7 linked regions of the Homo sapiens genome follow. The protein of the gene in region 3 purifies or fractionates together with the protein of the main gene of each other region. This does not show direct contact. Each region holds a gene or a part of one and is shown on either strand. Other genes may lie near its edges. The genes, in order: HM13, CYB5A, SLC38A6, EDIL3, RBFOX3, AP3S2 and GDA.

Region 1 (4,070 bases), on a different chromosome or scaffold from region 3:
CCTTGGGGCAGGGTTCAGGAGTTCATTAGTCTGGAGTCCAGATCGCCACCCAGGGCCCAGCCTGATGTAGTGTTCGCGTTCTCTCAGCGCTGCAGTTTTCCGATAAAGGAGAGGACTCCTGTGTGCCAGAGCTCTGAATGGGAGCCTCTTCTCAGTCCAGCCAGGCAGAGGGTGAGGCTGCCACCTTATGGCCACTGGGGGAATTGGCTCTGGGCTTGGACTCCAATAAGGGGCCGGGAGCTGCAGAGACCTCCAAAAGGTCTCTTAACTAGTCCTCCAAACCAGGTCCAGTCACTCTCTGTGACCCTTGCCATACGCATGTTACTCTCACCTTACACGCCATTGAAGCCCTTGAGCAGAAGTGAGAGGCAGTTCCACAATGGTTGTTCTTGGTTTTTCTAATTATGGGCTAGGGGCCTTTTGACCTTCTATAAAGTAATACTGTACTAGGACTAAATGAGTTATTAGCAAAAGAGTTTAGCACAGTGCCTGGCACAGAGTGATTAAAAAAACCCCAGCTTTTGTGATTAATTCAAAGATGGCTCGTCTGTATTTGGGCCCTGGGGAAGGGGAAAGGGGACAGAAGCAGCAAGCCCAGAGTTCCATGGTTACTGGGTGGTGCTGGGATTCACAACAGGGCTCCCTTAGCCCCTGTTCAATGCTGCGTTTCCCATGGCCAGGGCTTGAGAGCCTGGGTGTGGTTTCCATGCTGACCCAGGTTTGAATCCTGGCTTTACCACATACTTGCAGTGTGTCACCTGAACTCCAGTTTCCCCACCTGTTCACAAGGATCCTCATGAGTGCAGAGCCTGACATGTGGAAGTGCTTAACAAACAGGAGCTCTTATTATTTCCAGTAGAAAGTAGGGCAATCCTGTCTGCTCACTTTCCCCTGAATCTTCCCCTCTCCAGGCCACACTGAGGGCTCCCAGTCTTTGTGCTATGTTGCTTCATTCTGTGGCAGCTCAGTACTCCATCCTCATCTTGGTGGGAGAAGGAGGCAGAGCCTGGTCTACTAGGGAGTAGGGGGAGGGACGCCCCAATACCCAACACCCACTCCAATCCTGTTCTTCTCTGCCTGCTTCCCACTACCAAGGCTGAGAAGCCAAATCCTCTTTCCTGGACTCTCCTGTAGCCAGGGTGGCTTTAGGACCCCAGTCTGGCCCATGAGATGCTGAAAGGGTTCTGGGAAAGTTCCTGCCTTCCTGATGAAGGCAGCAGGCATGGCTGTTACGCTTTTCCCTCCTTCTTGCCTCTAACGTGCCCATGCTGCCTAGAGCAGTGGCAGCCATCTTGCAACCACAAATGGAAGGCCAAGAGAATCACAGACATGACTGCTCCAACACCAGTGGGGAGTGCCTATCTCTGGACTGCTTGCATTTACAAATAAATCCCTCTGTAAGTCCCTCTATTTGCAGTGAGGCATTCCTGACACTCTGATACCGTCCTGCCCACCTGAGCATGCTTGAAGATGTGCATGATGAAGATGGTAAGGCCCAGGCCGAAGATGTAGGCTGCAAAGCTGGTGTAGAAGTAGGTGTGGGTATTCTTCTTCAAGCTGCAGGGAAGGTGTGAAGAAAGAGGAGGAGGGTTAGATATAGGGACTGAACTAGTAATACCCCTTCTGAGGGAGCTGGGGAAGACCCTAGAGGTTGTGGGGGGGTGACTGAGCTCTGGGCTGGGAGTCTGGAGGTGGGTGTGCACGCTGATACTGCCCCCAGCTATGTGTCTCTGGACAAGTTGCTTTCCTTCTCTTAGCCTCAGTTTACTCATCTGCAAAATGGGAAAATGAGCTCATCTCCTTGGTAGTTATGAATATCAAATGCTGCAACTTATAACAGTGGCTGTAAGACTTTAGTCAGCATAAAAATCATCTGGAAAGCTTGTGAAAAAATGCAGGATTCTAGGTCCCACCCCCAGGGAGTCTGATCTAATAGCTCTAGAGCAGGGCCCAGGAATCTGCATTTTGAAAAAAACATCTGAGGTGAATCTCATACCGTTGGATCATGCTTTGAGAAACACAGATACAGAAACTGCAAAGATAAGTTACTACTTTTAAGTGCAGTGGACGTAATAGTTCAATAGCCTATTTGTGGTACTAACTAGATGCTGGCTGCATGAATAAATGCCAGTGGCTTCCTGGAGGTGATTCATCCAAGATCAGCTTCAGAACAGATGAATCATATACAGCCCGGCATTGCCATTACGTGACTTCCCTCTCCAATGCCAGCTCCGTAACCTCTGCATGTCCCCAGCACCTGGGATGTGCCCAGCCAGTACTATGGACTCAATTAACATTTGTGGAATGAATGAGTGCTTCTGACCCCCTTCTCTCCTTGTCCTGGGTGCTTCTAAGCCTTCGGCTGCAAGTACCTTGAGAACTCACCTATCTTGAGAACTGGGATACAAGTGACTCCCTTTGGGAATGTTGCACTGATTCTGGAAATCAGCTGAGGAGCTGCTTATGCTGTGAGCCCAGGCTAAAAAATGAGACTCTGTCTCTGAGGGTGCTGGCAGTTGAATCTGTCTCCAGCAAATAGCCTGGGGGCTTCTTATGGGTTTCACTTTGTATTACCTCTGAACAGCCAGGAGTAGAGACGGCTGGCACAGACATCCCTCTACTTACAGACTGGCCAGGTCTCTTCCAAAGGTGACTGTGAGCCCATATGCTCCTAAGGTTTGAAGTGGCACTACACAAATAACCCAGGTGTATGTGAGTGGGAAAAACCTAAGTTTCACATGGAAACTGGATTTCAATGATGCTGGTAGTAAGTTTCTCATTACCACTGTCACTGTTATTACTGCTTTTGCAACTATCAGGCATGAGGAAATCAAGAGAAGTTCACAAACCACCTCAAAGTTAAGTGCAACATTGCCAGCCCTCACAGGGATGACGGGGCATAAAATGATGGAGCTGTTGCTGGCGCCCCCTGCTGACGGCAAGTCCCATTGCATAGGTGCATTAACTTGGATAAGACCTTTCTTGTGTTTTAAACGCTGACCTAAGTTGCCCACCTTCTCCCCCTCGTGCTCACTGTCTACAACAGACTGAAAAATGTCTGAGTAAAGAGAGGGCAGGGAACAGCTAGAGCAGCTGAGACATGGTGACCTGACGCTAGGCTGATAAAAGATGATGATGATGACTGCAACCAGGATTCAACCAAGAGCGACTGAGGTCAGTGTGTGCTCAGCACTCTCTCCAGATTTTCATGGTAGGAACTCTTGTTATTAACTCAAGATGAGAAACCAGAGGCTCAGGAAGGTCAGGCCACTTGTCAAGGTCACACAGTGAGAAAGCACTGTGAGTACCACCAGGCCCTTGTGGGTTTAAATCTCTTGGCCTATGATTCTTAAAACAATTTTTTGACCACAGGCTCTTCAAATACTTAGAACTTCAAGATGCAAAATGCAGATAAAATCAGAATTGCTCTGGCTGCTGTGGGGGTGGAGGGTCTGGTCTCCTGAGGTACCTTCTCTGGGCTCCTGAAGGCCACTGGAGAATCCCTGGAGAAGCCCATGCTGGGGCAGGCCCTCACTCACTCACCTGATGTCAAAGCGCAGCAGCAAGGCAATGAAGATCCCTGTGGGAGAAAGCTGGGGTTAGAGAGTGGCAGGGAAGCAGCAGGGCAGTGAACTAACAGGAGACTGGGTCCTGGTCCCCAACCTGGTGTTCCATCTTGGAGCAATCATTGGAGACCAAGGGTGTGGCCAATACTCTCAAGTGACAGCAGAAAGTCCCATTTCTCTACCTAGAACAATGAGAGGGGCCCAGGATTTTGCTTTGGCCTGGGACTACAATGACCCAGCACCTCACCGCATCATACTATGTCACACCGTGTCTGCCCAAATGCTTATCAAGTGCCTATGTACCAGGCACTATGGGAAATGTAGGAGTAGGCAAAATCGCTGCTCCCACAGAGCTCAGCCAGGGGGACAGGGTAGCCACACTATGACATACCTCAAATAGTCACGGAAATCATTGTGAGATTGTGACTGTTAAAGAGTGCTTCCACTTTGGAAGGCAGAGGTGGGTGGATCACGAGGTCAGGAGTTCCAGACCATCCTGGCCAA
Region 2 (4,070 bases), on a different chromosome or scaffold from region 3:
AAATTGCAAATTTATTATCTATTCCAGCAATTTTAAAATCTTAGCATCTATAAAAAGTATTCATAACTACAGCAAGAGGATTTTCCAAATTGTGTATATATGAATAAAATTAACAAAAATTACTAGAAATAATCAAAATATACAAAAATATTAGTTAGCTATTAGAGGACACAATCAGTTCTGAAACAAAAGAATCACTGAAGGTAAAATATGATTGTCAAACTAGAAAGTTAAGTTTGAAACAGCCAACGGAAGGCAAACACAAACATCCACGGCGTCGTTAAAATGAGGGCAGGCATTTCACCAACGTGCTGACAACTCTGGAACCTCCCACCTGCCCTCCTGCTGCCTTTGTGGTTACCATGGGAGAGCGCTAAGGTTAAAACACTACTCTGGCACCAGCATCATCAGCAACAGCCATGAACTCTAAAGAGGGGAACTTGAAATAATCGTATCACCTTTTGATTGTTGATTATCTTCTTGGCTCTGTAGCCCAGGATGCTTGACAGTTAAAGGAAGTTTGAATTACCACTTTGCACTTTGATGGAAAAGTAATTGGTCTTTAGTGGTCAGTGCTCTGAGGGCCTCACTTGGGTTTAGGGACGTGACTATCAAAGAATGTCAGCAATGAACAAGGAGAAAGAATATGGTTTTTATGATTGGCTCTGCCACCTGTTCACTCCATGACTTCGAGGTTCAACTTCAGTAAAAAGAGGTTAACAATTAAATCAGTGTGTCAAAGTCTGGGCATGGTGGCTCAGGCCTGTAATCCCAGCACTTTGGGAGGCCGAGATTGGCGGGTTGCTTGAGTCCAGCAGTTCGAGACCAGTCTGGGCAACATGGTGAAACCCTGTCTCTACAGAAAAATACAAAAATTAGCTGGGCACAGTGCTGTGTGCCTATGGTCCAGCTACTCGGGAGGCTGAGGTGGGAGGATTGCTTGACCCCGGGAGGTGGATGGTGCAGTGAGTCCAGATCCATGCCGCTGCATTGCAGCCTGGGCAACAGAGTGAGACCCCGTCTCAAAAAAGTAAAATAAGTATGTCATGCATAATGACTTATAAAAGTCATGTGAATCAGTGTAAATTACAGTAAGCTCCATAAATTATGAAAAGCATGCAAAGCCCAACAAGCTTTTGTGAATCAGAGTCATCTCATTTATAAGTTCATCTAACGTAAACTTTAGTGGGAAGCCTATCTCCCTTAAAATACTGACAGAGTGATGTCTAACACGGCAAGCCCAGAACCTAGAGGAGAAGCTTAAGGGACTGCAACTGACCAGCCTGAGATGGGTGCTAGATGGTTCTGGAGCACGTCTGTGAGCCGGGTGCTTAACACTTCCCAGCTGCAATGTACCTACCTCCCTTGGCAGGTCTAACATGGAGACACTGTGAGGACCAAATAACTTCTACAAGAATGCTTTCAAAACTATAACCAAGAAGGGGTATTGCTACGACTAATATTCTCTATGTAAGCAAATGTGATAGAAACATTTATGTTAGATTAAAATGCATGATTTCTAAGTCTACAAATATCTTAATTTGGTAACTTAACACTATGCTTTCCTTAGGGCAGGTTCAAGCTAATAATCTTTACTGCATTTTATTTCACTATTCAACTAGATATTTTAAGCAGGCAACATCTCAAAACTTTAGACCACAGTGTACATTCTTCAACCTGGAGATCGGCCGATGGTTATACAGACACATGACAAAAGAAATCCCTAAGGACACTCTTTACTTCCACTAAACCAAAAGCACAAGAAAGATACATCCAGAAAAATGCTCATGTATTTCCTTTCATTTCATCTGCTTATGGCCTCTCAAAAAGGCCAGCAAGTTCTTGTCCCACATTCTTCCGGTTCTGCTCTCACTGAAGCAAAGTCACAATAAAGAAGAGTTGTTTAAAAAATACTCAGAAGTTAGTTAATCTGTAAAATCTCTGAAGAGAGTAAAAACATCTACTTTAGGCTGGGTGCCGTGGCTCACACCTGTAATCTCGGCATTTTGGGAGGCTGAAGCAGGCGAATGCCTGAGGTCAGGAGTTCAAGACAAGCCTGGCCAACAATGGTGAAACCCCATCTCTACTAAAAATACAAAAATTAGCTGGGCATGGTGGCAGGCACCTGTAATCCCAGCTACTCGGGAGGCTGAGGCAGGAGAATTGCTTGAACCCAGCAGGTGGATGTTGCAGTGAGCCGAGATCACGCCATTGCACTCCAGCCTGGGTGACAAGAGCAAAATTCCGTCTCAAAAACAAACAAACAAAAATCTACTTTAAAAAGTTAGTGTGATTCTCAAACTTCAGTGAGACCTTCTACATCTAACAAGCTGATCAAGTATCAACTGCTAATGCTGGAATGAAGTAAGCCATGTCTTAACGCACAAAGGGCTGTGCCTCAATGTTGTCAGGAAAGCTTTCTTTGATACTAAAAGCTAAAGTCCCAGAATTTACCACATAAACTTGCTCTGTTCCCAAAATATTCTCAGTATCAAAGTAACTGCCACTTTAAAATAGAAAATAAGAACAATAAATAGTAATGGGCAATTAATCCAACAGAGTATAGGCTGTAATACACGTGTTCTAAAAGCAAATAAGGAAGAAAGTCTTTGTCCTTTAAACTGAAAGTAGTTATGGCAGGAGACACATGTACAATCTTACACCTACAAGTGTTTTCTGCTTGTAGTCTTTATGGTTAGCGAGACGGCTGGCCCTGCGGTCATCTAAGTTCATCTAATGAATCTTAAACCTTTGTTTTGCTATAGCTAAATGACTTATACCAAAATGATTAACATGCTGAACACATGATAAAAAAAATATATATTCTTCCCTTAAGAGACTTCAGAGAAAAAGGAAAAACTTTATGCAACACAGAATTTCAGCTGTCCAAAAAGTAGCCTCAAAAAAGATGCTAAAGTCAAATGAACTCACAGCAAGGATTCTAAGCAATTGTCACAGAGGCCATTGAAATTCTGAAGTCAACTTTTTATCTCCTGGAAGTACTCATATCATTCACATTGAACTTAAGTCTTTCTTGAATAAGGAGAGAATATAAAAAAAATTGCTTTGTACTAAATAGTATTACACAAGACTTTTATTGTACTATCAGGGATGTTGAGGTAAATGTGGCCTTTATGCTTATATTATTGGATTAACTGCTTTGATCCTTTTGTAGATTAAAGATGATGTCTTGGCAGCAACAGCTCAAAAAATCAGCTCACCAGTTCTCGACACAAGCTCAGTGGGGTCTTGCTGTTGCACTTTCTCTAATGAAACCAAGAATTTACACCAAAACGAAAAATTATACTTTCTTTTTTGTCATTTGATTTAAGCAAAACTTTCCCCTGTAGTCCTTTAATTAGACACTAGAAACTATTTTGCCTACTTGTACTTTTCAGGAACTTAGGCTGTGCTCTTCCATTCTCACCCTACATTTATCTTCAAATATAAGTGAGATGGTCAGTTCAGAGAGAAAGGCTAGTGAATCAGAACATAAAACTAGTATTGCCAGAGTTATTTTCCTTTCCCAAGGAAAAGTAAGTCAAAAGGGTATTATTTAATTTCATTAAATTCATCTGACAAGTATTTATTGAACACCTACTATGCCCAAGAGACTTAAAGATGAAGAAGACATGAGACACACCCTTAAAGATTTAAGTAATAAAACCACTATCCATTCAGATTTTAAGTTCTCTGAAAATAAGGCTTGTGTCAAATCTTTTAGATCAGAAGCACGTGCTACCATAAAAAGTAGCTCTTCAAATGGTATATATTGATAATTATGATGAAAAAAGTAGTTTACTGACAGCCTTAAAAAAATTACACACACGCCATCCTAACAAATCATACTGACAGGTTTCCGTAAATAAAAAATACTTGCTGAGCCAGTAGGTTACATATTCATTTATCTAGAAAGACCTGTGCTGGCATCAGTCAGGTAAATAAAAACCCTCTGCCTTCAGTTTGACAAGTATTAAATACAACGAGAACATCCAGAGATACTTGAGATGGTCACACTTACCGGAGGCTTGTTTAACTTTGGTCTGTCATCCTGCAATGAAAAGATAAGG
Region 3 (3,513 bases):
TATTTCTTTTATTAAAATTGCTACCTGGCACAAACACTATTATATTTAGGGATCTTCAGCAATAAGAAAAAGTCCAAAAAAACTGACCTCCTTCTTCTCCCTATGGATAAATAGAACTATCTGGAAGAAACCTCAGATGGCTTGCCAATATCCAGGCTGGCTGAGAAATTGTTAGATGAATCACCATTAGGTGCTTAGAAACTGTATTAAATTGTAGCTGTATTAGATTGAAAGGGATGTGGAGGAAGGATGGAAGCTAATACATTTATTGAGCTAACATTTAAGACAGTGTCAGGTATTTTATATATACTCCCTAACTTAATCCTTATAACAATTCTGCAAGCTCAGTGTAGGTTCATTTAGGTTGAGTAATTAGACCAGATACTTGAAGCCAGTTAATAGTGGAATTGGGATTTGAATCTAGTTTTGTCTCTCTCCAAAGCCAATGCCTTTATTACTGTGTTGTCTACTCAGAAATTGTGCTATAGAAGCCAGATTTCCTTTATTCCAAGTTTTTGTTAAGGTGATCTTTTAGAAAAATATGACTCACTTAAGCTCTAGGCATCTATCTATGTATGTATCTATGTATAATCTATCTATCTAACATTGCTGCTTGAACACAAAGGCTAAAGGTTTTCATCATGTAGATGGCATGTTTCCTAGACAGGGATTTGTCTAATATCAAGTAAAACCATTATGTTGTCTCTGATTTAATCTCTTCTCCACTAATGCAAATTCTTCAGAGTATGCAAATTTTATATAATAGAGAAATACACATCTAAGAAAATCACATGGTAGGTAGGTATATGATTGATTAATAGGTAGGTGGGTAGGCAGATAGATGGGTGGATGAATAGATGATAGATTAGATAGATAGATAGATAGATACATACATACATACATACATACATACATACATACATACATACATACATACATAAATAGAATAAATGATACAAAAGTAGTAAGTTCTTCTCCAAAGACAGAAGAGGCAGATATTGATTTGCTCTTGGATTGTGAATCATAACCAAGAAAAACCTTTGATCATATCTTTCTACCAGGATAACAGGAGCTTTGTGTCATAGGAAGAAATTGCTGGTTGAACCTGAGATCTTATAAGGGCTAGCCTCAACTTAAGGCTTCCAATTCATTTTACAGATGAACAACTAAAGCCCAGAGAGGTGAAGTGACCTGTCACAGAATTAAAGGCAGGTTTCCTGAATACTAATCCAGTGTTATTTCTGCTACTTTGTGATAATCTTTGTAAACTTAATACCCTGTTTGACAATGTGTATTAAACAGGACAGCCTCCTGACTTCAATGGCATATATAACTTGCAGAGATCACCATTAGGCCCTTTCTGAGATTTGTAGAGATTTGTCTGAATCCAGGGAAGCATGCACCACTCTATCCCTCACATATGTTATGGCTCAGTTAAGAACACAGAGTGACTGGCTCAGAAGAAGTGTTTTCATCCTGGGAAAGTAGAAAGTGGACATGTGACATCTATTTTGAATTTGTAATAAATCTAGTTCTTCAAGATTCAGGAGCTGCTTTGGATCCTTTTATCCAGAGCTCCTAAAGTTTAATTTCTAAATTTGTCAGATTAAAGGGACTTATAGGTATGTACCTAGATTAATGATACTTGCTCTGATTACAGCTGTGAAAGGAAGAGAAAAGGGTTCCTCTGGTGAGCCAGGCCAGTGCCCAAATGTTGCATAATAACCAGGCCATTTAAAAAGTCTATGAGGTTGTTAAGCAAGAAGTGTTAATAGCTCATTTTATGATTCAGAAAATGGAAATAAAATAGTTTGCCATATTTCTCCAAAGACTCACAAGTATCTCACAGATTTGGAAATAGAATCCAGATTTCCTGGCTCTTCTTAGTCTCCTACTTAGTCCAAATCCCACATTGTGTAAAGTATGTTTTTGATACTTTGGACAATTCATTTCTCTCCTGTTTCCATTATCACTAGTCTAGTTCAGATTCTCTTTACCTCTCAGTGATTGTAACAGTAGCTGTTATGCCTGTTTGGGGTCTCTTTTTCTTCCAATCCGTACTCCTGCTTTAGTTCAGATCATAATACACTGTTCTTTGTAAGTCATTATTGCATTTCTGTGGCCTACCAGGTTGAGGCCACATCTCATGCAGAACTGTATTACTAGGTCTGAAATGCATTTCCAGCCCTATCACCCACACACTGTTTCATCCACTGTAGTACTTACTAGACCACTTATTTTCTCAGATGCACATTCCCTTTGCTTTGTTTGTGCTGCTCCTTGCTTCTAGAGAATCTCTTCCCCCACATCTTTGAACATCAGCACACATTCATTGACTCATGTAATGTTCTCAGTAACCCTATAGTTTAGTATATGGCCATCCCCATTTTAAAGATGTAGGAACTGAGAGACTCAGTGTAAGTTGCTAGTTACTGGTGGGGTTTGAACATGTTCTATGTCATCACAGTTTAGAATCTCCATAGCTCTTGTTTAGAACTCTCTGGCCACTTACATGTGTATATCACACTTTCTATCATAGCTATGTGTATTCATCTCATCTCTTCTTAAAGTTCCCTGAGAACAGAGGTATGTTTCCTTTTGTTTTTGGTTTCCCTCAAAGTATCCTTTCTGAAACACTCTCAAATTAAAAGGCACCATTCTATTTTAAGTACAAACTGATATTTTCCCACAAAACACTGATATCCAGTGTTTCTGAGCACCCTCAGTCTTCTTTCCCCTTGTCTGGGTTGAGGTTAGGGAGACATTGTGAGAATGCAAGAACACTGGAGCAAAGCTTGGTCGGCATGTATAAATCCTATTGCTGACCACCACACACTGGCCTACTAAGTAAGACATTTCCCTAACACTTCTCTTTTTTTCATAAAACATGAATCCACAGATGAAACGTAACATGCACCAAGCTCTGAGATTCTAGAAAACGTTGTGGTATTGAGGAAAAGATGCTGTCTCTAGCACCAAAAAGAAGTAGGTGTATGGCACTGCCCCTTTGTGTTATGTGATCTTAGGCAAATCATTTAACACTTTTGGACCTACCTGCGTATTAATATTGTTATCATGGGGACTAAATTCAACAACACGTGTGAAAGCACTTTATAAACAAACAGCACAAATGTTCAAACCCTTAGATTATGGAAAAGTTCCAAAGAGATAATTTAGTATACATATTCATTGTCATAATTTGAGAGGTTCTGCTTATTCTGGTTTTTATTAAAGGAAAAAGGGTGTTAGGTTTCAAGAAGATATTTAATTAATGTCTCTGTGTTTCATAGGCTAGGGGAAAGGCCAGGATTTGGTAATGGGAATCTAAAATCTGTTATCATCCATTAGTGCAAAGGAAAACAATTTTGTTACTATTGATACCTTAGTACTTTATAATGTGATCCTTATTATTTTATTTACAGACAAAGTGGAGTCAGAATTACTAAAAGGTTATAGTAAATACTTATCACATGATGTTGTTGTCATGACTGTGAAGTTATGCATACTATTTGC
Region 4 (4,070 bases), on a different chromosome or scaffold from region 3:
TACTGAAAAAACTAATAAAATAGATAGACTGCTAGCTAGATTAATAAAGGAGAAAAGGGAGAAGATCCAAATAAACACAATTAGAAATGACAAAAGAGATACTACTAATAACCATCAGCAACTGCTGTGAACACCTCTGTGCACACAAACTGGAAAGTCTAGAAGAAATGGATAAATCCCTGGAAATATACGCCCTCCCAAAACTGAGTCAGGATGAAATTCAAATGAGTAGACAAATAAGAATCTCTGAAATTGAATCAGTAATAGATAGCCTACCAACCAAAAAGAGCCCAGGCCCACATGGATTCACAGCTGAATTCTACCAGATATACAAAGAAGAGCTGGTAGCATTTCTACTAACACTACTCCAAACAATCGAGGAAGAGGGACTCCTTCCTAACTCATTCTACAAGGCTAACATCATCCTGATACCAAAACCAGGCAGAGACAAAACAAAAACAGAAAACTTCAGGACAATATTTTGATGAATATCAATTCAAAAATCCTCAACAAAATACAAGCAAATTGAATCCAATAGCACAACTAAAAGCTTATCCACCATGATCAAGCAGGCTTTATCCCCAGGATGCAAGGTAGGTTCAACATATGTAAATCAATAAGAGTGAATAATCACATAAACATAACTAAAGACAAAAACCACATGATCATCTCAATAGATTCAGAAAAGCCTTCCAATAAAATTTAACACCTCTCATATTAAAAACTCTCAATAAACTTGGTACTGAAAGAACATACCTCAAAATTATGAATCACCTATGATAAACCCACAGCCAACATCATACTAAATGAGCAAAAGATGGAAGCATTCCTCTTGAAAACAGAAATGAGACAAGGATGCCCTTTCTCATCACTCCTATTCAACATAGTATTGGAAGTCCTGGCCAGGGCAATCAGGCAAGAGAAAAAAGTAAAAGCCATCCAAAACGGGCAGAGAGGAAGCCAAAGTATCCCTGTTTGCAGAGGACATGATTCCATATCTAGAAAACCCCACAGTCTAGGCCCGAAGGATCTAGGAAACCCCACAGTCTAGGCCCGAATGATCCTTAAGCTGATAAACACCTTCAGCAAAGTCTCAAGGTAAAAAATCAACATACAAAAATTACTGGCATTCCTATATAGCAACCACAGTCAAGCCAAGTGCCAAATCAGAAATGCCATCCCACCTACAATTGCTAAAACAAAACAAAACAAAACAAAAAAAAAACGAAAAAACCCTCCTAGGAATACAGCTTATCAGGGAAATAAACAATCTCTACAATGGGAACTAGAAAACACTGGTCCAAGAAATCAGAGATAACACAAACAAATGGAAAAACCATTCCATGCTTGTGGATACGAAGAATCAAAATCATTACAATGGCCATACTGCCCAAAGCAATTTATAGATTTCAATGCTAATCCTATCAAACTCCCAATGACATTATTCACAGAATTAGAAAATACTATCTTAAAATAGCCAAGACAATCCTGAAGACAACAACAAAAATAAAACCCCCCAAAAGCTAGAAGTATCACATTACCTGACTTCAAACTATACTATAGGGCTACAGTAACCAAAAGTACTGTTTTGATACTGATACAAAAACAGACATATATTCCAATGGAACAGAATTGAGAGACCAGAAATAAGGTTGCACACCTACAACCATCTGATCCTCCACAAAGCTGACAAAAACAAGCTATGGGGAAAGAACTCCCTAATCAATAAATGATGCTGGGATAGTGGTTAGCCATAGGCAGAAGATTGAAACTGGACCCTTTCCTTACACTATATACACAAATCAACTCAAGATGGATTAAAGACTTAAATGTAAAATCCAAAGCTATAAAATCCCTGAAAGACAACCTAGGCAATACCATTCTGGACAGAGGAAATGGCAAATATTTCATGACAAAGAGACGGAAAACAATTGCAACAAAAGCAAAAAATGACAAATGGGATCTAATTAAACTAAAGAGCTTCTGCACAGAAAAAGGAACTATCAACACAGTGAACAGACAACCTACCGAATGGAAGAAAACTTTTTCAAACTATGCATCTGATAAAGGTCTAATATTCAGCATCTATAAGAAACTTAAATTTTCAAGAAAAAAAACAAACAACTTCATTAAAAAGTGGGCAAAGGACATAAACAGACAATTTTCAAAAGAAGACATACATGCAGCCAACAATCATAGGAAAAAAACCCTCAAAATCAGTTATCATTAGAGAAATGCAAATGAAACCACAATTAGATACCATCTTACAACAGTCAGAATGGCTATTACTAAAAAGTAAAATAATAATAGATGCTGGCAAGGTTGAGGAGAAAAGGGAATGGTTATACACTGTTGGTGGGAGTGTAAATTATTTCAACGATTGTGGAAAGCAGTGTGAAGATTCCGCAAAGAACTAAAAACAGAACTAACATTCAGCCCAGCCACAGCATAACTGGGTATATACCCAAAGGAATATAAATTGTTCTATGATAAAGGCACATGCACGCCTATGTTCACTGTAGCACCATTCACAATAACAAAGACATGGAATCAACCGAAATGCCAATCAATTGTAGACTGGGTAAAGAAAATCTGATACATAGACACCATGGAATACTATGCAGCTGCAAAAGAGTCAGATCATGTCTTTTGCAGGAACATGAATGAAGCTGGAGCAAACTAATTATCCTTAGCAAACTAATGTGGGAACAGGAAACCAAATACTACATGTTTTCCCTTAGCACCACTTACAGTGGGTGCTAAATGATGGGAACACACGGACACATAGAATGAAATAACAGATAGTGGGACTTACCTGAGGGTGAAGGATGGGAGGAGGGAAAGGACTAGGAAATATAACTAATGGATACTAGGCTTAATACCAGAGTAACAAAATAATCTGTACAACAAAAACCCCATGACATGAAGTATACCTATATAACAAACCTGCACATGTACCCCTGAACCTAAAATAAAAGTTTCAAAAAAAAAAAGAAAATTGGTAAAGTTTTGTAAAAAATAACATTAAAAATATATTATTAAAGAACACAATTATAAAATGAATACATTGAATATAATTCCTAAAAATTTATTGAATAACAATAATTTTTAGTTTTTCACCCATTATATTTGAGGTTCTCACTCTAATATAAAACCTTTCATGTTTACTTTAGCTGTTTTTCTCTGAGTTCATTATCATCTTCAGACCAAAAGCAAATTATCATCATCCCACTGACCTTAAAAGTAAAATAAGTTTTAACTATTGTTCTTAAGAGAATAAATCTAAATTTTTCTCAGTGTTGATCACTGTCCTGTTCGATTAAGGTTATTTCTGCCTACAGCCACTGGGATAAAGGGAATTAAAACTTCACACAATACTTTGAAAGGAAGAATGATGCATAGTGTTAAGTAGGCAATACTGGGACAAAGTAAAGTGAACAATCGGATATGAAACATTAATAAGGTGTTTCTCAGAGTAAACACTGGAAAAGCATGCTACTTATGGTTTATAGAAAGATGGCAATCATTGAAGCTCACGAACATAATTTGCCAAACAGAAACCCTGATGTAAACTGGTGATATCATCTCTCAACTGTTCTGAATTTTGGCTATGAATATTAATGTCTAAAGTTTTATCATGACCACAGTCCTACAAATGCATTTCAACTAGAGTGATTAAAAATGTCTCTGGAATGATTATTCATTAGTAAATATGATATAATTATTTTCTATTATTCTGTGCATATTTTAAACCTTAATCGATCCTTCACAAGTGTGATAAAACTGTATAGATGTGCCATTTCCACTATCTGGAGTTCATTTTGCACATGTTGCTATAGATTGAAAAAGTCAAGTGTAACTTAAGAAGCAATTTTAACAACTTCATGTAAATATAAATTCATAATACAAAACAAGAACTTCAGGCAACCTTATTAGAGCTCTATAGATAAAAGAAATGTTTATGAGACATATAAGAATGCCTAAGAAATCTGAACAAAGAAAGTATCTGAAGGAGATTTTGGCCCAGTTTTTCAAGTATGGAAGTCTTGCCTCTTAGCCATAAATCAATT
Region 5 (4,070 bases), on a different chromosome or scaffold from region 3:
CCCCACCATCGCCTTCTCCAAGTGGCCAAGTCCCAGCTGCTCCATGGCCAGGGGTGGGAGGGGGTCCCCGGTCTCCTTTCCCAAGCTGGGGGCCGAGGGCAGAGCACAGGCATGAGCGTCTCAGGAGTGGAGCGGGCAGCTGGGCCAGCAGTCTTAACCCGCACTTTCCTGTCTGCCCCACTCCCTCTTTGTCTCTGTCTCTGCAGCAATTCGGAAAAATTTTAGACGTGGAGATCATTTTTAACGAGCGGGGCTCCAAGGTGGGTGCCGCACGGAGCTGCCGCCTTACAGCGCCGGCTGTAGGTCCCGCCAGGCTAACGTGTGAAATGTGCGTTTCCTTCCTGGAGAGCTTCGCGCCCGAGGACCCCTGAGCGACACGGGTGCTTGTATTCCCCGCTCTTCCGCCCCCACCCGCCCCGCCCCCACCCCAGCTGTCTGTGTTGTTGCTGCCGCTGCCGCTTTTTCTTTCTGAGCCACCAGGACCTCTTGCCTGCACCCCAGAGCCCTGGGCCCCAGGTCCGGGCCCCACCCCCACTGAACACTTACCCCAGGGGACCACTGGCCTTGAAGCTTGAGGGAGGGGCTACAGAGAGGGCAGGCTGGGGAGGGTGTCCGGCGGAGACAAGCCCTACTCCCCTTCCAGGAAGGCACGACCCTCTACCCTGGGCTCCGAGGGTGGAGATGGGTGGGCTGCCCCTGCAGGTCCTGAAGCCCAGCCTGGGCCCCCTACCCCAAGGTGGGGTTCAGGGGGCAGGCCTGGCCTGTGGTCAGGTATGGCGTCTCTTATGTGGCTTTGGCCTGTCCCTTTGGAGATGCCGGGTGATCAGCTCAGGCTGGGCTCAGGCTGGGTCAGCAGCTGCCCCCCTGGGGCCCATACCCCTCCTGGCATCCTGCCGGTGGCCCTAGGACAGACCTCTGGGCTGCCTGCGTCTCTGCCTCAACTCACCTGACTCAACCCCTTCTCTCTCTCTCCCCACTCCCCTGCCCCCCTCCCACTCCTCTTCTTCCTCGTCTTCCTCCTCTTTCTCGCCCTGTGTCCTCCTCTCCGTGCCTGTCCTTCCCTCTCCTCTGCTCACAGGGTTTTGGGTTTGTAACTTTTGAAACTAGCTCAGATGCTGACCGAGCCCGGGAGAAGCTGAATGGGACGATCGTAGAGGGACGGAAAATTGAGGTGCTCAGATAAGTGTGCTGCGGCAGGGATGCCCCAAGATCGCCCACCTGCCCCCCAGCTCCCCCAACCAACCAGCCCTGCCACTGCCGCACCCTTCAGAGAGCCTGGCCAGGGTTCCCTGGGGTGGGAGGAAGGGTCGCACTAAGGCCAGGGTGCTCAGCTGCCGGCTGAGCCCTATCACCTGTCACCCCTTCAGGCTCACCCGAGGTCCCCTCTCCCCTGCCTCTTCCCTCCTTTTCCTAGGAGAGGCGCTGTCCCCAACCAGACACTGGAGGAGCCCCAGAAATCCTGTATTTGGGGCTTGGCAGCTTCAAGGACCATGGCCAGCCCACCCGGCCAAGGAGCCATTAATCCCCAGACCCTGCTCACCATGGAGCAGCGGCTGTCCCCAACCTGTCCCCACATGGCCCAGTCTGGGCCCTGCAGTTTGCCCCCACCTTGGCCCCACTCCACCCCTTGTTTGGGTAGAAGCAGAGGCAGCAGTGGCAATGGCCAGGGCAGAGGAAGAGACCAGGCCCCAAGGAGGAGCAGGGAGAGGGGCCCTGGGTCCCTCCCTGACACCCATCCCGCTCTGTCCCCTCCTTCCCTGCTCCCCAGGGGTCCAGAGTGCCAGTGGGCTGTGTTCCCTTGCTGCGGCCTGGGTGTCTGGAGCTGGGTACCCCAACAGGCAGGGCAGCCAAAGGGTGGCTGGAGGAGGGCTGGGGCCAGCCACCATGACAGAGCCCTCAGGCAGGCAGTGAAGGGCCTGAGAGGAGGTTTCCAGACTTCTGAAGGCACTGGCTTGGCCAGGCTGCAGCCCCACGCCCTCGGGGCTCAATGGAGGACGCAGGGGAGGCAGAACAGCCCAGACCCCTTCCTGGGACCCATCACCCCTGCTATTCTCGACTCCCTCCCACACATGCCTCGTCTTCTCCATCCCAGGCTGCCCCTGGACAGCCTCACCCAGGCATATGTGTGGAAAATAGGTGACTTCGTGCCCAGAGCCCCCCTCCCTGTCGGCCTCGTCCTCCAGGGGCACACGGGCCCCATCAGAGACCTCTGTACTCTGCAGCATTGAGGACTCTGGCCTCGGGGGAGGGGGGCATCATCCAGGAGGGGTATGTGGCCATCTTGGTACCCATGCCTAGGTGGGCCTTGGCAGCCTCAGGGAGGAGGGGGCATCCTGGAGTCCAGCCTCTTAGCTGGTTCTGGTCAGAGAGCACTCTGTGGAGAGTCCACCAGGGAGCTGCTCCAGCTGTCCTGGGGTGCCTGGGAGCCTGGGGCTGGGTTTATGGGAACAGCCACATGAAGGATACAGGCCAGCAGGCCTGGGTCTGGGGTCCTGGGCCAGGCGGGGCTTTAGCCCGTGCTGGGAGCAGTGGGGGCCAAGGCTCCCGGAGGGCAGGCAGCATGGTGGAGAGAGGAGGCTGGGGCGGGGGGTGCCGGGGGCTAACGGAGCAGGGCGGGGAGGAGTGGCCAGTGGGTCTTCCAGGAGGCTAATCCTCCCTCTTCCTCTCTCTCCTTCCCTCTTTGAACAGGTCAATAATGCCACGGCCCGAGTGATGACCAACAAGAAGACGGGGAACCCCTACACCAACGGTAAGGGGCTGGGTCCCCCCACAAGGCTGCTGGGGTCACTGGCTGGGACAGAGGCCCTGGGGGAGCTGAGGCTGCTGCAGGCTGACCTTCCTGGATCCTAGGCAGCCTCCGTCCCCAGTGTCCCAGCCCTGGGGCTGCCGCTCTGCTCCCGGTCAGAAGCGGGTGGGGCAGAAGAGGCGGGAGGAGAGCTGGGGGCCACTCACCCCTCTCATGGCCCCATACAGTCAGCCATAGCTGGAGTCTCACTTTCCCAGGCGTGCCTGGCCCCCAGAGGCCACACGTGCAGGCTTCTGATCCAGGGGGATAGCTGTGCCTTCCTGGATTAGGACTGACTTTCCCCCAGGGCCAGAGTTTGAAGGCTTCTGTGCTGAGACCTGCTGCACCGATTCCCAGTGTAAGCAGGCTCAGGGAGGGCAGTGAGGGCACGGGGGGCCTTGGATGAGCTTCTAGACCTCTCTGAGTTCCAGTCTCTTCATCTGCAAAACAGGAATAGTGACACCATCCCCCAGAGCTGTTCGATGACAAATGACACCTTTAAGCACCATGAGGAAGGGCCCGGGGGGAGGTGCTCAGATTTCGGAGGATGTGATTACAGTAACTGCCTTCCTGGGGCTTTTTGACATGGGTGGCCCTGAGGCCCCAGGCTGAGCCCTGCTGTCCACAGCAAGGGGAGACTGAGGAATCTTGTGTGTGTGCACCCCACTGCAAACGGAGGTGGCCGGTCTTCCTTGGAGATGGATCTGCCGACGCTAAGTGCTGGCTCTGGAGAAGCAGGGGGACCACTGGTGGCCACTGCGAGTCTTAACTCCATCCGGCAAGGGGCCTGCTTTGAGCAGAGCAGGCGTACGTTGGGGGCCTCCGCTCATTCCTGCCAGGGAGCAGCTTCCCACTCGGACCCCTTAGAAGCCTCAGCGCTGCCCCTAGACGGGATGGATCTCCCTGTTGCCGTGGACTTTCAGACGGTGTCACCCCCAGCCTCTCATGGCCCCCCATGTGATCGGCCATACGTGGAGTCAGGTGACAACCAGCATGGAAGCCTGGACAGGACCGCCCGATCCGCCACCTCTCCCCCGAGCTCTTCTCCTGGTGTCCGATGCTGGGGTGGGGCCGGGCCTCTGGCCTGGCCCAAGTTAGACTTGATTCTCATGGCCTCATATCCTGCTTTTCTGAGGACTTACACATCTCAAATTCTTTTTAAAAATTTGGGAGTGTTCCCACTTTGCAAGCATCCCGAGTGCGTCCTGGGTGTGACTCTTCTGTGATCTGGCACTTGGCACAGGAAGTAAAAGCGGTAGACATTTTTATAGGGTACAGGTGATCA
Region 6 (4,533 bases), on a different chromosome or scaffold from region 3:
ACATGCTAAGCATCAGCACTTTTTAAAACTGACAAAGACATCTTTTGAACTAAAGCCTTTTATCTGACTCTGGGGGAAGTGGCAGCAGTGGGGAAGTGGTACGAAATGATGAGGCTACCTAATTTCTAGTTCAATAAAAAGGTAAACTACCAATTGCTTACATGCCTCAGTGATTTTAATAACCCCTCATATCTTTTTAGTACTCTGTAGTTTTCAAGGTACTTTCATCCATGAGCTCATGAGGTCTTATAAAAATCCTATGATCCAAAGATACACGAATGGGCAATAAGCACATGAAAAGATGCTCAACATCATTAGTCATTTTGGAAACTGAAATCAAAACCACAATGAGCTGGGTGCGGTGGCTCACGCCTGTAATCCCTGCACTTTGGGAGGCCAAGACGGGCAGATTACTTGTGGTCAGGAGTTCGAGACCAGCCTGGCCAACACAGCGAAACCCCATCTCTACTAAAAATACAAAAATTAGCCAGGCATGGTCGTGGGCACCTGTAATCCTAGCTACTCAGGAGACTGAGGCAGGAGAATCACTTGAACCCGGGAGGCAGAGGTTACAGTGAACCGAGATCACGCCACTGCAGCCTGGGAGATAGAGTGAGATTCAGTCTCGGAGGGAAAAAAAAAAGCCACAGTGAGATACCACTTTACACCCACTAAAATGTCTTTAACCAAAAATAAATAAATAAATAACGAATGGCAGGGATGTGAAGAAACTGGAATCATTATACATTGCTGATGGAAATGTAAAATGGTGCAGCCACTTGGAAAATTTGTCAAATAGTTTGCAGTTTCTCAAAATGTTCACCACAGTTACCATATGATCCAGCAATTCTACTCCTAGGTATATAACCAAGAGAAATGAAGTCATAAGTCCACATAAAAACTTGCACAAGAATGTTCATAGCAGCATTAATTAGAAGAGCCAAAAAGCAGAAATATCAACTTATAAATTGACAATCAAAATATGGCATATCCATATAATGGAATATTATTCAGCAATAAAAGAAATGAAGAACATCAGATACATGCTACAACATGGATGAATCTTGAAAACATTATACTACATGAAACATGGCAGACACACAAAAAACCACTTATTTATGATTCCATTTATAGGCAACGGAATAGGCAAATTCCATTTGCCATTCTGGAACTGGCAAATTTAGAGGGAAAGAAACTCTCTGGGGCTGGGAGAGTCATGGAGAAATAGGGAGTGACTGCTAATGGGCAGAGGTTTCTTTTTGGGGTGATGAAAATGATCTAAAATTGATTGTGGTGATGGTTACACAGCTTCTGTGAACATGCTAAAAAACACTGAATTGTCCCCTTTAAATAAGTAAACTGGGGCCGGACACAGTGGCTCATGCCTGTAATCCCAGCACTTTGGGAGGCTGAGTCCGGTGGATTGCTTGAGCCCAGGAGTTCAAGACCAGCCTGGGCAACATAGAAAGACCCCGTCTCTATAAGTAAATAACATAAAATAAATAAGTAAACAGTATGGCATGTTAGTTTTATCTCAGTAACCCTGTTAGAAAAAAACTAGGGGGGAAATTTGCATACACACAAATGCAAATACAAATAGTTACGCTGAATACTCATATACATACATATATATATATACTTTTTTGTGTGTGTGTGTGATGGAGTCTCGCTCTTTCGCCCAGGCTGGAGTGCAGTGGCGCTATCTTGGCTCACTGCAAGCTCCGCCTCCCGGGCTCACGCCATTCTCCTGCCTCAGCCTCCTGAGTAGCTGGGACTTGGAGGTGCCCGCCACCGCGCTTGGCTAATTTTTTGTATTTTTAGTAGAGACGGGGTTTCACCGTGTTAGCCAGGATGGTCTCCATCTCCTGACCTCGTGATCCGCCCGCCTCGGCCTCCCAAAGTGCTGGGATTACAGGCGTGAGCCACCGCGCCCGGCCTGAATACTCATATTTTTACCTCGATGTAATCTACTTAATAAAATGTAATCTAGCTTTAAAAATCTTATGAAGGAGTAAAATTATTTTTTCATTTCTAATTGACAAAAGACAATAAAAGTCTGAAAAGGGTTTATTAACTTGTCAACAGACGCAAGAGTAGAAAAGGTGGAGCTGAAGCCTGAACACGTTTTCTGGCTCTTTCCCCTCTTCAGTTCCACCAGTCCCCCAATTATGTAACATTTTGAAACCCTGCCATGAAGAAATATAATCTTCGAAGACAGGAAGCAAATACTGATGTTTATGTGTTTGCAAAGGAACGTGTTGGGAAAATTCAAATTTACGTAATCACTTATTGAGCCCTTATGCGGCAGCATTTATAATTTCTCATCATTTTTCCACTTTTAAACTGATTTTCTTCAACCCTAAGAGTGAAGGGTATCTAGTCTCTGGAAAGTCCCAGCCAACACTGAAGCAAAATAATTCCAAAAAAAAAAGAACTTTTCCAGTTCTGGCTATAACAAAAACTTTCAGAAACTTAATATTTCTTCCTCATGAAACTGTGGTCAACAACCAAAAAGATGACAGAATGTGACTTCAATCACTCAAGTTCTCATCGAGGCACACTCCCCACTGTCGCTTCTATCTCGTTCCCAGAGACCCACGGGAAAATGTCACAAAATGGCACAGAAATGCCAGGATCAAGAAAAGGGTCAGCGAGAGCGGGGCAGTAGGGCGGGAGACAGAAGGCCTGGCACCAGCCTGCGCCTAGATTAAATGCTTAAGTAGGGCGAGGGTCATGCTCGGTGCAGGAGCCCCAGGTGACCAAAGAGCGGTGCCCCCGGGCGCCGAGAGGCCAAAGAGGAGGGAAGACATAGTGGGCGCCCTGAAGGGGCGTGGTGAAGCCGGGCCGCACTCACGAAACGCTGGTAGAAGCGGACTAGCCGTGGCTTCCCATGGTTGTTGAAAACCAGAATCGCCTGAATCATCTTTGCCAGCCACGGTTCTCTCAGCACCGGCTACTCCCAGAAAGCTCCTCCTTCCGCCACAACACGATCACTTCCGGTTGGTGCGCTGCTGAGAGCGGCACTCGGAAACTTGGCCCCGGCGCTCACGAGCCCTAGCACCCAAGGGTCCGGCCTCTCTGACGCCTTGGAGGGCAGGTGCGGATGCCGAGGAGAGTGGTCACCTCGGCCAGCGTTGGTTGGCCAGTCAGGATGCGAATCCGGATCTATGTCCCTCGCCCAGACCGACGGCTGGCCCCAGAAGCCGAAACGACCGTCAGCCGGGTTGCCAAAACGGAGAGGCGGCGGGAGCTTGCTTTTCTCACCGCCCGCTCCAAATCATGCACTCCCGCCATCCCCTTAGCGCTCGCAGAACGTTCCGCGGAGTGGAGACGCCGGTCATTCGGCCGTTCGTCGGTTATGGAACATTTCGTTCATTTTAATTTTTCAGTATTATAATGCTGCAGTGAATTACGTAGCTGTCTCTCCGTGCAGATGGGCTGTTCCTCTATGGTAGACGGTGAATGGTGGAATTAAGGAATTTTTAGTGCATTTCCATTTAAAATCCCAAATCGATCAAGTTCTTATTTTTGTTTGTTCTTTTAATGACCCAGTGTGGGTGAAGTGGAGCATGTCCGTATACTGCAGATGGAGCAGCGGATACAGATGCAAATCGATCCAGAGGACTGTTTGGCGATATGGATCAGAAGCCTTTAAAATATATAACAGTCCGGGCGCGGTGGCTCACGCCTGTAATCCCAGCACTTTGGGAGGCCGAGGCGGGCGGCTCACTTGAGGTCAGCAGTTCGAGACCAGCCTGGCCAACAAGGTGAAACCCCGCCTCTACTAAAATTACAAAAATTAGCCGGTTGTGGTGGCGCGCGCCTGTAGTCCCAGATACTTGGGAGACTGAGGCAGGAGAATGGCTTGAACCCGGGAGGCGGAGGTTGCAGTGAGCTGAGATCACACCACACTGCACTCCAGCCTGGGTGACAGATATATAACATATATATATATATATATAAAACATTAGACTCAGCGTTTCCAGCTCTAGAATTTATGATAAAATGATTGTGGATGTGTGAAAAGATTTAGCCTGAGGAACATACATTTCTGCCAGAGTATCTTCAGAACAGTAAAAAAAAGAAGAAAAAAATATATATCTCAGCAGTGTTATTACAGGGGAAAATGGGAAGAAAATTATTACAAAAATGAGAAATTGGTTAAGTGCATTGTTCTACATTGAATATGAGAAATATTAAATAGATAATAAAAATCATGCTGGGAAAGATTTATGATACGGAAGTGTTCATGACACCTGTTAAGCTAAAAGATTACACAAAGTATGTACAGGGACAACCCACTTTGCTCAAGATTGGAGGCAAATACACCAAAATATGAATCATGTATCTGATGGAATGGCAGAGTCAGGGTGTTTGATCTGTACAGGACCCTGGAACCACACTGCCCTGATTCAAAGCATGGTTCTGCGGACTGCCTGGGCACCCTGGGCAAGTTTCCCCATCTGTAGAAAAGGTGTAATATCAGTTTCCTAAACTGGAAAACTGGAAAATGAGTCTACTGACTTCAGACAG
Region 7 (4,070 bases), on a different chromosome or scaffold from region 3:
TTAATTTTTTGTATTTTTAGTAGAGACAGGGTTTCACCATGTTAGCCAGGATGGTCTCAATCTCCCGACCTCATGATCCGCCCGCCTCGGCCTCCGAAAGTGCCAGGATTACAGGCATTAACCACCGCGCCTGGCCATACTATTCTTAACTGAAACAATGCCAATATTATCTGTGAGGAATTTTACGCAGTCTTACTAGCAGCTCTCAGCACTAGAACCTAGTCCTCATCAAAGGTGCTGGAAGAATTCTATTTCAGCAAGAAAGCTGAGGCTATATGGGACAATGGTAATTGTTTTTACAGTGTCTCCATCTCTGTCATAAGAGATTTTTAAAAACCTTTCTGCCTCTCTCCTTCCCCTGTAATTCATTTAGATAACTGGCCATTAGATTAATCTTCCTTAAAATACCACTTTCATCACATCACTCACACCTGGACTCAGAACCTTTTTTGAGTCTTTGGTGCATATTTGAGCTCTTCTACAATGTGAACCCTCCCATCTGCCTACCCTCTTCTCCCACTGCCCCCAGGCGATGAATCCACTCCTCTAGTTAAACTACTGTGGTCCCTGCATCCACTATTGACACTCCTGTTCCCATACCTGTGTCCTTCCCCTATCTAGAAGACAGTTTGTCCTCTCCTCATCTTGTCTTTACTTCAAAGCCCAGTTTAAAGGACCCTTTCATAAAGCCTTCCCAGATGTCGTAGTTCTGGGTTCTCTTTGCCTTCTCTGAAGACTGTAGTATCTATTTTCAGAGTCACCCATTAGGTCAGGTCTTTTGCATAAGCAAACAGTGGCATCAGTGTATCAGCCAACAGTATTTACTGAGCACCTGCTATGTGCCAGGTACTGTGCTGGGTACAAGTTTTGGAATCATCAACCCGAATCCAGAATCAGCTCTTCTTACTAGCTGTGCAACCCTGGGCATGTTACTTATCCTCTCTGAGCGTCAGTCTAACCATCTGTAACATGAGGACATCAGTAACCACTTCAGAAGGCTGTTTGCTGCTGAACTAATTCTTCCAGAGTGCTTTGCACAATGCTAGACGTCTAGTAACAGCACCATAGTTGTTACTAAGGTTAGTGATCAATGGTGTAGGTATTCTGTCTGGCTTCTCAAGGGCAGAGACTATTTTTTATCTCATTGCGTTTCCAGCATCTAGCACAGTGCCCTGACTCTAGCCAATAGCCACCATGTATCTGCTGATATAAGAAACTATTACCACAACTAGAATTAGTAAAGTTTCCCTAAAAAGCCCTAAATTAATACACAAAATTCAGACTCATATATATCATTCTGTAACCAAAAATTGTAAGTAAATAATCAGAGTACTTAGAAAATAGAAAACACTCTATGATACAGTTTTCTATTTTCTAAGTACTTTAGAAAATTTCCTAAGGGCCACAGTGACATATAGACACGTAATTACTTGCAAAAAATGTAATGCTCATGTTCTAGCAATTAAAAGGCAGGTCTGCCCAAAAGTACATATAAGTTGTTTGCCACGATGGTCTGGCTGTCTTTGCTTGAGGTGCCCATAAATCATGCTTCATTTGCTCACCTGTAATGTCGGCAAGGAGCAGAGATGAGTCAGTGTGAATTGTTGCAAAGTAACAAGCTGTGGTTGTTCCATTCTTTAGTGTTCTCCTCTAAAAATAAATCACAAAAACCGCGAATCACGTGTGCTCAGAAAAGTCACATGGTACATCCAGAGGAAAACAGAATTTTAGTTTTTAATTTTAAAATGTTTTTATTTAAAGGTATGCCATCTTGATGTAGAGTACAGTTAGGTAAATGGCAAAAGGTATTTATATTCCAAAAGTTAGCTGGAGGAGAAGCTGATACTTCTGATTTTTTCTCGATTCACACAGTTCTGTGCTTCAGAATTCATTAAAATGTGATACTAATGAATTCCTTCTTTCTTAGGATTGTTTAAGGATATCCAAATTTTATTGCATCTGGGAGTACATAAATAAGTTTTTCTTCTACTACAGAATAAAAATATTCAGCCAGACTTTAGCTCAACCTGGAAGGTTAATCACATATATCTATCTCCTTTCCTTCGCAAACTACAACAAACATGACAGTAAAGGAGTACAAACGTTATTAACCCACAAGAAGAACATGAGAGGAGAGACATGAGCAGAGAAAACATTTCAATATCTTCTTGGAAGACAAAAAACATGGACGAGAACCTGGAAGCAACTTGGAAAGAAGGAGAGAAGTGTGTGGGTTTTAGCAGGGGACTGGCTGGAAGTCTATGCAGGTATGATTAAACCCTGGCAGGAACCTTGTTGAAATCAGCCAACCACCCTTAACTTCTTCCTTATAAGAGAGATTTACTCTTTATAGAACCTGGATAGTATTTAGAGGGTACAAGCTCCAAAAGAGAAGGTAAAGCAGAGGTTTAAGTGAAAATCTGGCTGACCTCAAGGGCACTCAGTCATTTTCCCCAGAATACCACGTGTACTACTCCCACAACTCCTGGCAGGGGACTAAACGATTATTTTCTAGAGAAAATGAATGGCTCTAAAAGAAAGATGTCTTCACAGTGACGTTTGGGACCCAAATTCACTGCCTTCACTACTCATCCTATAATGAAGTTACCATCAACAAGTGATACCTCCACCCAGAAATTCCAGTCAGCACCTTATAGCATCACAGTATGAATGTATGTCCAGGGTTTGATAGGCATTGGAGGGAATCTATTATCAAAAAGATAAGGAGGGGGAGAAAGAATCTGGAAAAAATCTTAGAGGAAACATAATCTATAAGGTCAGAAAAAAGCTCAGTTAAAAAAAACAACTATGACTCACATCCTCAAAGAAATAAAACACACTATTGCACCCACAAAACAAGAACAGAATGCTATGAAAATCAGAATGCAGGAGCTCTCCAAAAGTAAAAATATTATAAATGAAATGTGGAAGCCAGTAGGAGGGTTGTAGGATAAATTACAAGAGAATTGCTCAGGAAAAGGAAAAGATGAAAATCAAAGGTGAGAACATAAGAAAATTAGGCTCAATCTAGGCAATCCAACATTTAGAATAAGAAATCTAAATTTTTTTAAATAAATGGAAGGGACAAAAATATGAAAAATAATATTCATCTCCAAAATTAAAATCCTCATAGAATTGTCAGCACAGGGAATAAAAAGAGAACCCAAAGTAAGGCATATAATTGTGAGATATTAAGTTCGTAAGTACAGAAAAGATGCTAAAAACTCCAGGAAAAAAAAAAAAACTGGTCACAGATAAATGACAGGACTCACAACGACATTGGATTTCTCACTAACAATGCTGGAAGCAGAACAATGCCTTCAAATTCAACTCATATATATCATTCTGTAACCAAAAATCCTAAGTAAATAATTAAAGTACTTAGAAAATAGAAAACGCTCTATTATATAGGTTTCTATTTTCTAAGTACTTTAGAAAATTTTCTAAGGGCCACAGTGATACACAGACAATTAAGTACTTGCAAAAAATGCAATGCTCATGTTCTAGCAATTAAAAAGGAGGTCTTCCCACAAGTACATATAAGTTGTTTGTCACAACAGGAGTTATTTTTAACATATAATTTTATACCTTGGTAAATTATCAATCAAGTGTGAAGGTAGCATAGAAATATGATTAAGTACCGAAGGACTTGAAAATTTTACTCTCCATGAACTCTTTCTTAGGAAGCTTTTAGAAACTGTCTTTTAGTAAAACACAAGAGTAATCCAAAGTAATTCCTGGATCCAGGGAGTGGGCATTAAACGCAGGAAAGAGGCAAAGAGAATGCCAAGATTACAGTAGTGCTACAGAGAATGCTGACCAGAAACAAGAGAATGGGAGGAGGTGAGAAGATCTTCAAGAAAGAAAATGGAACGGATATTGCCTGACCTGTCTGAGCACTTGGAAAAAGGACTAGTGGATTGAATACTTTGGGGCATATCTTTAGCAGAAGCTTTTAAATGCAGAGGAAAACCCTCCAGACAGTGGCTCTTGCTTACGTTTTGCCTGTTATTAGCTACGTGACCTTGAGAAGGTTGCTTACATTCCATGTTTCCTCCTTTGTGAAAAAA

Evidence for each region.
Region 1: the proteins of SLC38A6 (region 3) and HM13 purify together in Homo sapiens (affinity purification with mass spectrometry; one large-scale study listed by BioGRID and IntAct). This does not show direct contact.
Region 2: the proteins of SLC38A6 (region 3) and CYB5A purify together in Homo sapiens (affinity purification with mass spectrometry, with the first as the bait; one large-scale study listed by BioGRID). This does not show direct contact.
Region 4: the proteins of SLC38A6 (region 3) and EDIL3 purify together in Homo sapiens (affinity purification with mass spectrometry; one large-scale study listed by BioGRID and IntAct). This does not show direct contact.
Region 5: the proteins of SLC38A6 (region 3) and RBFOX3 purify together in Homo sapiens (affinity purification with mass spectrometry, with the first as the bait; one large-scale study listed by BioGRID). This does not show direct contact.
Region 6: the proteins of SLC38A6 (region 3) and AP3S2 purify together in Homo sapiens (affinity purification with mass spectrometry; one large-scale study listed by BioGRID and IntAct). This does not show direct contact.
Region 7: the proteins of SLC38A6 (region 3) and GDA purify together in Homo sapiens (affinity purification with mass spectrometry; one large-scale study listed by BioGRID and IntAct). This does not show direct contact.

What each region holds. Positions count from the first base shown.
Region 1 is NC_000020.11:31,559,121-31,563,190, reverse strand, and holds part of HM13 (signal peptide peptidase), read right to left. Parts: intron 3,581-4,070; coding exon 3,544-3,580; intron 1,558-3,543; coding exon 1,455-1,557; intron 1-1,454. UniProt on the Homo sapiens protein: Catalyzes intramembrane proteolysis of signal peptides that have been removed from precursors of secretory and membrane proteins, resulting in the release of the fragment from the ER membrane into the cytoplasm.
Region 2 is NC_000018.10:74,256,894-74,260,963, forward strand, and holds part of CYB5A (cytochrome b5), read right to left. Parts: intron 4,052-4,070; coding exon 4,022-4,051; intron 1-4,021.
Region 3 is NC_000014.9:61,047,090-61,050,602, forward strand, and holds part of SLC38A6 (solute carrier family 38 member 6), read left to right. Parts: intron 1-1,061; coding exon of another isoform or gene 1,062-1,066; exon of another isoform or gene 1,067-1,158; coding exon of another isoform or gene 1,159-1,190; exon of another isoform or gene 1,191-1,208; intron 1,209-2,226; exon of another isoform or gene 2,227-2,314; intron 2,315-2,899; coding exon of another isoform or gene 2,900-2,910; exon of another isoform or gene 2,911-3,416; intron 3,417-3,422; coding exon 3,423-3,513. UniProt on the Homo sapiens protein: Amino acid transporter with an apparent selectivity for L-glutamine and L-glutamate. May facilitate glutamine uptake in excitatory neurons. The transport mechanism remains to be elucidated.
Region 4 is NC_000005.10:84,101,411-84,105,480, forward strand, and holds part of EDIL3 (EGF-like repeat and discoidin I-like domain-containing protein 3 isoform 1 precursor), read right to left. Parts: intron 1-4,070. UniProt on the Homo sapiens protein: Promotes adhesion of endothelial cells through interaction with the alpha-v/beta-3 integrin receptor. Inhibits formation of vascular-like structures. May be involved in regulation of vascular morphogenesis of remodeling in embryonic development.
Region 5 is NC_000017.11:79,100,263-79,104,332, reverse strand, and holds part of RBFOX3 (RNA binding protein fox-1 homolog 3), read left to right. Parts: intron 1-206; coding exon 207-260; intron 261-1,078; coding exon 1,079-1,171; intron 1,172-2,688; coding exon 2,689-2,749; intron 2,750-4,070. UniProt on the Homo sapiens protein: Pre-mRNA alternative splicing regulator. Regulates alternative splicing of RBFOX2 to enhance the production of mRNA species that are targeted for nonsense-mediated decay (NMD).
Region 6 is NC_000015.10:89,891,027-89,895,559, forward strand, and holds the start of AP3S2 (AP-3 complex subunit sigma-2), read right to left. Parts: upstream 2,969-4,533; 5' UTR 2,924-2,968; coding exon 2,855-2,923; intron 1-2,854. UniProt on the Homo sapiens protein: Part of the AP-3 complex, an adaptor-related complex which is not clathrin-associated. The complex is associated with the Golgi region as well as more peripheral structures.
Region 7 is NC_000009.12:72,208,267-72,212,336, reverse strand, and holds part of GDA (guanine deaminase), read right to left. Parts: coding exon of another isoform or gene 3,999-4,070; intron 1,651-3,998; coding exon 1,563-1,650; intron 1-1,562. UniProt on the Homo sapiens protein: Catalyzes the hydrolytic deamination of guanine, producing xanthine and ammonia.